Linked DNA regions of Homo sapiens: region 1 is linked to region 2. The links come from fine-mapping of genetic effects on gene expression. Tissue or cell type: thyroid. Region 2 holds a variant in brackets; the other region holds the start of a gene. All regions are shown on one strand. Distances are from middle to middle.

Region 1 (5,103 bases), 120 kb before region 2:
TATCATGACGCTGTTCTGCATTTTGACTGTGGTAGTGAACACAAGAATGTACAGATGTGATAAAACTGTACAGAACAGATACAGCTACAAGAAAAATGGAGAAATCCGAATAGGATCTGTGGACTGTGTCCACGCAATGCCCTGGTCGATACTGCACTACGTTTCACAGAATGTAACCAATGGGGGACACTGGGAAGGTGTGCAAGGAATCTCTCCATGTTAGTCTTGTAACTGTTTGTGAATCTACAATTATCACAATAAAAATTTCCATAAAAAGGTGGAACAGGCCCAGTGGCTCCCTCCAGGCCTTGGTTTGTATTTGCCTTCTGAGAAGCTCTCTGGACTATAAAATCCAAAATTCCTAGCACGGACCTAGACACCTTCTCGATCAGATCCCTGGCGATTCCCTTCACATCTCCTGCCTCTTGCTCAGGGTTCACTTTCTCCACACACAGATCTTCCCTCCCTCGGGACTGAGTCCAAGCTGCACCTCTCTCCGCCTTTCTTTAACGCCGGCCTTCCCTTCAAAACCTAACAGAGACCTTTGCCCTGCTGTTCCCTGTGCCAGGAGAGCCTCTGCTCCACTTCTTTACACAGCCTGTTCAATGTCACCTTCTCAAAACACCTTCCCTGGCCGTGTCTCCACCCGCGCCGTGCGGACCCGCGCCCCGCAGACTCGCTCCCTTGGCCCTGTCTCCACACGCTCCATGTGGACCCGCTCCCCTGGCCCTGTCTTCACCCGCACCACGCAGACCCGCTCCCTTGGCCCTGTCTTTACCCGTGCCCCGCAGACCCGCTCCCCTCGCCCTGTCTTCACCCGCGCCCCGCAGACCCGCTCCCTTGGCCCTGTCTTCACCCGCGCCCCGCAGACCCGCTCCCTTGGCCCTGTCTCCACCCGCGCCATGAGGACCCGCTCCCCTGGCCCTGTCTTTACCCGCGCCCCCAAGACCCGCTCCCCTGGCGCTGTCTTCACCCGCGCCCCGCAGACTCGCTCCCTTGGCCCTGTCTCCACACGCTCCATGAGGACCCGCTCCCCTGGCCCTGTCTTCACCCGTGCCCCGCAGACCCGCTCCCCTGGCCCTGTCTTCACCCGCGCCCCCAAGACCCGCTCCCCTCGCCCTGTCTTCACCCGTGCCCCGCAGACCCGCTCCCCTGGCCCTGTCTTCACCCGCGCCCCCAAGACCCGCTCCCCTCGCCCTGTCTTCACCCGTGCCCCGCAGACCCGCTCCCCTGGCCCTGTCTTCACCCGCGCCCCCAAGACCCGCTCCCCTCGCCCTGTCTTCACCCGTGCCCCGCAGACCCGCTCCCCTGGCCCTGTCTTCACCCGCACCACGCAGACCCGCTCCCTTGGCCCTGTCTTTACCCGTGCCCCGCAGACCCGCTCCCCTCGCCCTGTCTTCACCCGCGCCCCGCAGACCCGCTCCCTTGGCCCTGTCTTCACCCGCGCCCCGCAGACCCGCTCCCTTGGCCCTGTCTCCACCCGCGCCATGAGGACCCGCTCCCCTGGCCCTGTCTTTACCCGCGCCCCCAAGACCCGCTCCCCTGGCGCTGTCTTCACCCGCGCCCCGCAGACTCGCTCCCTTGGCCCTGTCTCCACACGCTCCATGAGGACCCGCTCCCCTGGCCCTGTCTTCACCCGTGCCCCGCAGACCCGCTCCCCTGGCCCTGTCTTCACCCGCGCCCCGCAGACCCGCTCCCCTCGCCCTGTCTTCACCCGCGCCCCCAAGACCCGCTCCCCTCGCCCTGTCTTCACCCGCGCCCCGCAGACCCGCTCCCCTCGCCCTGTCTTCACCCGCGCCCCGCAGACCCGCTCCCCTCGCCCTGTCTTCACCCGCGCCTGCGGACCCGCTCCCCTTGCCGTGGCTTCCCCGGGCGCGCGGGGCCCCTGTTGGGTCCTTGGGTGGAACCTCAGCGCCGACCCCCGGGTCTGGGCGGGCCCTCCACGCGCTGGGAGGGCGGGATCCGCAAGGCGCCTCACAATCGCTGACTGCGGACGCGGGTGTCGCCGCGGGAAGTTCAGCGCCGGGTCGGAGGGCGCCCGCTCCGGGGGTTCTGACCCGGGCGCGCCCCCAGCCTGGTCCCGGCCCGGCGCTCCCGTCCAGGCCCCGCGCCGCTGCGGCCGACCTGGGGCCGGGGCGGCGTCCGATTCCCGCGCCCCCGCTCACCTGGTGGCCGCCTTGGTGAGCACCGGGTAGAGCCGCAGGAAGAGCAGGTACTGGGCGAGCGCCCGCCGCGGCAGCGCCCCGAGCCCGGCTTCGGCCCGCAGCCTGGACGCGGCCGGCGCCATCGCCTCCCCAGCGCCGTGCCGCCGGGGGCACCGACCCCACCTCAGGCTGGCCGGGCGCGGAGCCCGAGGCGCCGAGAGCGGAGTGGGGACCGCCTGACATTTCCGGCCCCACCGCGGCCCGCAGCGCCGCCCGGTCCCAACCCCACGGTGCGCCGCGCGCGCCTACCACACACTTTTCCCCGGTCCCTGCCGGCCACCTCCCCCGCCGGGCGCCGGCGCCAATTGGAGCGCCTCGGGGGGCGGGGGAGGGGCGGAGCGCGCCTCTTGATGGACGGCGGCATTTCCGGCTCTCGCGAGTCTGGGTGGGAGCGCGCCAAATTTCTCCCCTGAAGCAGAGGTGGTAGCCAACGGCTCCATGTCTCTGAGGAGCGGCGGGCGGCGGCGCGCGGACCCAGGCGCGGATGGCGAGGCCAGCAGGTGAGGGGCGCCCTCCTGAGGCTCTCGGGCCGGCCCTCCGGAGGGTGCCATGGGGCCGTCCTCGGCTGGCGCCGCCGAGGCGGGAGGGAGGCCCGGTTCCCGCAGCCGCCCGCACTCGCCGCGCCTGACTGGGGTAGGGCGGCGCGCCCCGACCGCCGACGGAGGGGCTCGGGGCGGGCGGAGGCGCTACGGGCGCGGCTTCTTTGCGGGGAAACGAGGCGGGCCGCGCGGCCTTTCCCTGCTCGGCTCTTTCTGAGGTTTTTCGGGCCTCGCCTTCCGCGCAGCTGCGTTTGGGACCTGCCGCGCGGCGGGGGCGATGAGAGCGGCGGGACCCGGGCCAGGCCCTGCGGGGTGGACGCGCGGCTGGGGAGGGTGCGGGGAGGGGCGGGGCCGGGGACCCTGCCTGGGGGCCTAGCGCTGGGGGAGGCCGAGGCGGGCGGATCGCTGGAGCCCAGGATCCTGTTCTAGATCAGCCTGGGCTACAGAGAGAGACCTCGTCTCCTCTGTTTTATTTTTTTGGGCAGGGAGTCCCGCTCTGTCGCCCAGGCTGGAGTGCAGTGGCGCGATCTCGGCTCACTGCAACCTCTGCTTCCCGGGTTCAAGCGATCCCGCTGCCTCAGCCTCCCGAGTAGCTGGAATTACAGGCGCCCGCCACCAGGCCCGGCTAGTTTTTGTATTTTTAGTAGAGACCGGGTTTCACCATGTTGGCCAGGCTGGTCTCGAACTCCTGACCTCAGGTGATCCGCCCGCCTCGGCCTTCCAAAGTGCTGGGATTACAGACGTGAGACTCCGCGCCCGGCCCTTCTCTTGTAAAAACAAGAAAAATTAGACAGGCTGGTGGTGCGCGCCCGAGGTCCCAGCTATTAATACTCCCGAATCCGAGCCGGAGGTTCACCTGAGCCCGGCAGGTCAAGGCTGCTGTGAGCCGGGATCGCGCCACCGCACTCCAGCCTGGGCGACGGAGCCAGACCCAGTCTCAAAAAAAATAGAGCAAGGATAAGACGCGGCTGCTTGGTGGCCAGAGCAAACGGTAAACATGACCGGAGGACTGGCCTGCCATAAGCAGAAAACGGATGAGGCCCGGCGCGGTGGCTCACACCTGTAATCCCAGCACTTTGGGAGGCCGAGGCAGGAGGATCACCTGAGGTCAGGAGTTCGAGACCAGCCTGACCAACATGGAGAAATCCCGTCTCCACTAAAAAAATACAAAATTAGCGGGGCGTGGTGGCGCATGCCTGTAATCCCAGCTACGCAGGAGGCTGAGGCAGGAGAATCACTTGAACGCGGCAGGCGGAGGTTGCGGTGAACCGAGATCGCGCCATTGCACTCCAGGCTGGGCAACAAAGAATGAAACTCTGTCTCAAAAAAAAAAAAATAGAAAAAACGTGTGAGAACGTGAAGCTTTTTACAGACACTTAGCTGAACAAAATTCTTCCCAGAGGAGAAACCAAGTGGTAAGGATCCCTAACTGCTGTTGTGCTCATCGCTGTCTGTCCATATCAGGCAAGCCCTAGAGAGGCAGGTACCCTTAGGGTCTACATGGTGTGTTGGAACTTGGAGCTTAGAGACGGTTACTGACTGCCCTGCTTCAGGACACAGGACTGCACTCACGTGCTCCACTCCACTGCCCTGCCCCAAGCTCAGTGATGGCCTCCAGGCAGGGGGAAGGCTGCTGCTGGGATAAGTACAAGTGATGGCTTTTACCTTACATGCTTTATGTGGGTTACCTCATCTCATCCTTAAAACAGTCCTGGGAGGTGAGTGTGCCCCAGGAGGCAGTGGGTGCTGTTTGCCTGCGTTTCTTCTTGTGTGAAATGGGGACACCAGTGGCCTCCCTCGTAGGGGTTGTCATGAAAACTGAATGAGAGCATATGTGGAGTACTGGGACGGTGTGATACAGTAACCAGTCAATGGTAGCTCTCTGTGAATGAGAGCCTGTGTGGAGTACTGGGACAGTGTGATACAGTAACCAGTCAATGGTAGCTCTCTGTGAATGAGAGCCTGTGTGTAGTACTGGGACGGTGTGATACAGTAACCAGTCAATGGTAGCTCTGTGAATGAAAGCCTGTGTGGAGTACTGGGACGGTGTGATATAGTAACCAGTCAATGGTAGCTCTCTGTGAATGAGAGCCTGTGTGGAGTACTGGGACGGTGTGATATAGTAACCAGTCAATGGTAGCTCTGTGAATGAGAGCCTGTGGAGTACTGGGATTGTGTGATACAGTAACCAGTCAATGGTAGCTCTCTGTGAATGAGAGCCTGTGTGGAGTACTGGGACGGTGTGATACAGTAACCAGTCAATGGTAGCTCTCTGTGAATGAGAGCCTGTGTGGAGTACTGGGACGGTGTGATATAGTAACCAGTCAATGGTAGCTCTCTGTGAATGAGAGCCTGTGTGG
Region 2 (5,000 bases):
CGCCCAGGCAGGAGGACGCCTCGGGCTTCCTGGTTCTGGCGTGGGCCTGTGCCCTGCTTTGCCTTGCCGTGGGGCCCCGCACGCTGTCTCCCAGGGACAGCCTGCCCTCCCTCGCAGGACCACCACACTTTTGGCCCGCCAGTTTCTGCAAAGGTGGGAAGCAGGTGCTCTTGCCAGGGAAGGTGGGCGACCCTCCCCGGGGAGCCACTTGCCACCAGGGCCGAGACAGCCCCACCCAGAGGGGGAGTGGTGCACACCTAGTCTCCAGCCCAGGAGGAGCTGCTGTGAGCCTGGATGGGCCAAGGGGAGATGGTCGTTTCCCACCAGGGGCGCCAGGGAAAGGGGGGTCCCACAGCAAAGACCGGCCATCACACCACAGCCCCCTCCTCCCCAGACTGGCTCTACCGCCCCTTCCCTCTGGGCTACCACCCTGCCCAGAAGCAGCTGTGCTCGGGGTGCGGCCGGGACAGATTCCTTCCCTCCCAGACTCAGGGCCTCAGCGTCCTGGCTGTCTGGGCTCAGGGCAGTACCCCCGAGTCCCAGTCTGGGGGTCCCTGCTCGACACCTGCAGGTGGGCCACATACATCCCTTCTCCATTCCTCTGAATTCCTCAACCACGGGGTCTGGGGGTCCAAGACCCTCTAGTGCCCAGGGGTGCCTGGTCCTCGGAAGCACTATCTGCCCGTCCACGATGTGGGCGGTGCCCCAGGGGAGCCCAGGGGTGCGTGCTGGGCCCTTCAGGGCAGCTGTGGGCAATGAGTGGGCGCTGCAGGATCCTGGGAGGTCAAGGGCTTGGCAGCTACCGGGGATGGTCCAGGCCCCGTCTTCAGAACCTGAGGCCCACAGGTGAGGCGGCTTCAGGACTGAGAGCTGTGTGCCCCTCCGCAGAGGGTGGGGTTACAGCACAAGGCCAGGAACAGTGAGGAGGGTCACGGGGTTCCCTCTCCCCTGGCTGAGATGGCACACAACCTCCTGCTACCCAGGTCCCCTGCGGGTGTGGACGGCCCCGTAAGGCCCGGGTCCCCCACGGTGTGGACGGCCCCGTAAGAACCTCCTCGCAGTGTGGATGGCCCCGTAAGAACCTCCTTGCGGTAAGGACGGCCTGTGAGGCTGCTGTCCACACCAGGGCCTCCTGCCAAGGACTGGAATGTTCTCCTTCGAGGCTTCCACAGTGTGCTCTCCACACGGTCCCACCACCTCCCAGGGCTGCTCCCAGGCTGGACCCCCTGTCCCTCCCACGGTGGCCACACACAGACCGCAGGGCCCCCCATCCTGGCAGGGGCTGCTCACGCCAGCACCCAGATGACGACAGGTACAAGGGAGGGAAAGGGGGGTGGTTGTGGGCAGAGAGTTTGGCGAGGTTGTCATGCACTCCCCCCAAAATCCACCCACCCGCTGTGCCCGCCCCACCTGCCAGGGGCAGCGGTACCTTAGGCTGAAAAGCGCCCTGCAGGGACCCGAAGGGGCCGGGGTGTGGGAGCAGGGTGGGCAGTCCCGGGATGGCAGGAGGGAAGGACGGGAAGAACTGTAAGAGAAGGAGAGCGGATGGAGGGGGGGCCCAAGTCCTCACCCCACCCTCTGCCTGTAACCAGAAGGTGGCACCAATGCAGCAGGGGCGAGGCCAGGCGAGGGGCAGCCCCACCCACCGCCCCGTGGCCAGGACCTGCGTGCACAGCGACACGCGCCGGGCCCCTCGGGGACACTCACACTCACGCTGGAATGTCGGAAGTAGGGGCTGTCCAGCTTGGGCGCATACTTGTCAAACTGGAAGGGAAGGAGAGGAGGGTGAGGCCCCGCACACACGACACCGTTGCTGGGCCCCGGGCCCCGCCCACCTGGCCGGGCTGGGCAGTGACAGGACGGCGTTGTGCTTCCTGAGGCTGGCGGCTTCGGCCAGCCGTCCCAGGCTCCTCTAGAGCGCCAGCCCCACGGCTCTGAACTCAGTCTCAGACCAGGGCGGCCCTGCCATTCTAAGGGTCCCCTTGCATGGGGTGGGAACTCGGCCCCCCCAGGCAGTCTGTGTGCCTGGCTGAGGCCTGGGGCGTGAAGCCCTGGCTGCTGGGTCGCGCTGGGGACACACCGGGTTACTGACAAACTGGCCAGTTTCCGAATAAAACTCGAGAGAGTGGAGGGGACTCCAGCCCCCAGCAACTCCCTCCTCAGACCGGGCCTCCGGGGCGGGGAACACGGGAGGCACCCTGAGTCATGGTCCCTGTGCCCTCAGGCCTGTCTGGGCCTCCAGCCCTGGCACTGGGGATCTAGTGCAGGCGTGAGGGTGTCCCATGCACGTGGGCACGGGGTGCCTGCCTAAGTCCAGGACCACTGCCGAGGGTGGGGGCCTCATGGCACAGCTTGGGGTGGGGACACCAGAAGGCACGTTGGGGACCGGACAGACGACAGAGAGGTGCCGCCGGCCCCCCACCTCCTCCTGGGCTGGTGTGTGTGCGAGCGTGTGTCTGTGTGTGCCTGCTGCGTGTCCCCGCCCCACGCCCGCCCCCGCCCCCTGCCAGCACGCGGGCCTACGCACCGGCGGGGGTGCGGCGGGCGGCGTCGGGGGCAGCCCTGCGGGGAAGGGGGCGAATGTGTGTTGGTGCTGGTGTGTGTGTTGGTGCGTGTGCTGGTGTGTGTGCTGGTGCTGATGGAACTCCGCCCGCAGCAGAGCCCCCGGGCCCAGGGAGGCGCCAGGCCGCTCGGCGCTCTGCACCAGAAACCGCGTGTTCAGCTCTTGCCTGAGCAGCTCGTGATCTACAAGAGAAAAAGAGAGAGAGACAGAGAGGCACGTTGGCCGCGGGCTCCCGGCGGGGC[G/A]AGGCGGATAGTCACCTGGCACTCCCGGGGTCGGCAGGCCAAGCCGGGGTGGCCGCTCGCCACGTGCGGGCCCAGGGGTGCAGGTAAGAGAGGAGCCTGTGACCAAGTACCAATCAGAATTCCCGAATGAGGCTGGCAATACATGATTGGCTGGCTGAATGAGACCGCCAGGCTGGCATCTAGAGGCAAGAGAGAACACGGTGAGCCCCTCCCCGGGAGCCAGGGTCCAGCCACCCGCAGGCCAGCATCCTGGTCCCATCCCGGGACACGGGGCCGTCCCCAGCCTGGGCCGGGCTGACTCGGAGCCTCAGGAAGCGCCTGGGGGCCGAGGGAGGAAGCCTTCGCGGTCGGGGTTCCACTGGGATGGCGCCTGCTTGATGTGCGGCCCCCTCCTCCCAGGGCTCAGGACCCAGCAGGCTGCGGGGGAGGCCTGGCCCCAGGAGGGGAGGCCCGTGCGCCCGTCTCAGTGTGAACACGCGTCTGTACGTGCATGGGCACGTGTCCTGCCTGTCCCCGCACACAGATGGCCTGTGGCCCAGCAGAGACTCCTGGGGAAAGGCACACCTGGGGGAACCACTCAGAGAGGCGCGCAGGGTCCGCAGAGACCACAGCAGGTGGAGGGCCAGGCTGTGCGCCCCTCCCCGGTGGCCGTGTCCCCGCACCCCCCAACCCCTGCCCTGGGCGAGATTGTGGCCGAGACACCTACCGGCCGGGTGTCCTGGGAGGACCAGGCTGCTGGCCGGCAGCGCCGGGGGCGGGGGCAGTGTCGGGGGTGCGGCAAACATGGCCGCGTGGAGCTGGTGCTGCGCCTGGGACCGGAGCGCCAGGTGTGAGGTAGACAGGTGGGGGCCCGGCCCGTGTGGCGACAGCGACACGTGCTTCCCCAGGCCCAGGGGGGCGCTGCTGCTCCTGCTGCGGGACACGGGGCTCAGTGCCTGCCAGCCCGACCCCTGCAGAGCCCCCATCCTGAGACCACACAGGCCCCGTCCCCCGCGGGGACCCCACCTGAGGCCGTGCAGGCCGTTGGCTGCCGCCTGGCTGTGGCCCGCGAAGGCGCCCAGGGATGCAGGCACGTGTGTCGGGAGCAGGCCGCGGGGCTGCGGGGGTGGCGGCTGCGGGGTGTGGCGGTGCGGGGCGGGGGGTTCCTTCTTCACCAAGGGATTGGCGCGGGAGCCGGGCGGGGGCCCCGGGCAGGGCGCGGCATGGGGCGCGGGGCTGGCAGTGGGCAGGAAGCTCTCGGCGCTGAGCTCGCGGCTGCGCTCCAGGCCTGACACCTTGGGCACCGGCCCGGCCTTGGCCTCCGACTTCTCAAGCGCTGGGCCTGCAGAGAGAGGGTGGCTGCGTTCAGACCAGCAGGGCCTCGTCCCTGCCCCTCCTGTGGCCCAGGGAGCCCTGGTACGTGCCCGGTGCCCAGGCTATGTCTGGGCTCCGGCTATGCCCCCATTTCAGATGAGGAGGCAGGCACGGAGGCCACACAGCTAGCTGGATCTCACCCGAGGCTCCAGGCCCCGCCCGGCGGAGGGAGCTGGCTTGGGAGCCTGGGCCGTGGCCAGGGGTGGGGGTGGGTAGCCCACCTGCCCGAAGACGCATCACTGGCAGGGACAGGACAGGCCCTGCAAGAGTCAGTCCCTGGACAGGGGCTGCTATGACCTCATTTAACAGACAAAACCAAGATACATCAAGGACTTGGCCCAAGAGGGGAGCTGGATTTGAACACGGGAGCTAGGGCCTGTGTACCTAGGCCTCATGTTCACGGCCCCTGGATGTGCCCTCAGCCCAGGGCATGGGTCTGCCCCACCCCAACAGCAGCGCCCACAGCTGTAACCACCTTTTCTTTCTGGAACCCCCTGGTGGAAGGCTTGACCACTTCCTGGAAACTTGGGCAGGGACTGGGTGGGAGGCTTCCCCCTACTGTGACTGCCCGTCACCCGCCACCCTCAGCCCTGCTCCCTGGCCACCCTTCTGCCCACCTAGGCACGTCCCCCGCAGGTCCTGTGGGCCCCTCTGAGCCCCTGGGGCCTGCCCCCCCCACCCCCGCACACCCCAAACCCTCCTTTTCAGGCCCCTTCGGGCAGGTCTCAGATCAAGTCCCCAGGAGTCAGGAGAGGGCAGCGTCCATGTGGTGGAGCTCCTGTTGCCTGGGGTCAGGAGCTGCCACGGTCAGGGGGCCAGTTTCGCAGGAGAAACAAAACAAC

What was found. PIP is the estimated chance that this variant, and not a neighbour inherited with it, causes the effect.
Region 1: POLE starts here. The variant in region 2 is fine-mapped to the expression of POLE in thyroid (GTEx, PIP 0.96).

The regions. Positions count from the first base shown.
Region 1 is chr12:132,684,855-132,689,957 of GRCh38, reverse strand. It overlaps POLE (DNA polymerase epsilon, catalytic subunit), which reads left to right and starts at 2,616. Exons shown (of 49, transcript NM_006231.4): 1 at 2,616-2,704. The coding sequence starts at 2,643. PXMP2 (peroxisomal membrane protein 2) reads right to left here and starts at 2,371. Exons shown (of 5, transcript NM_018663.3): 1 at 2,166-2,371. The coding sequence starts at 2,287. RefSeq lists a silencer at 1,856-3,165.
Region 2 is chr12:132,569,052-132,574,051 of GRCh38, reverse strand. FBRSL1 (fibrosin like 1) reads right to left here. Exons shown (of 19, transcript NM_001367871.1): 7 at 3,811-4,126; 8 at 3,512-3,717; 9 at 2,821-2,984; 10 at 1,708-1,764; 11 at 1,430-1,525. Among named protein-coding and RNA genes, the nearest start is that of MIR6763, 10 kb to the left of the region's middle. The variant G/A (reference allele first, on the strand shown) is at 2,806.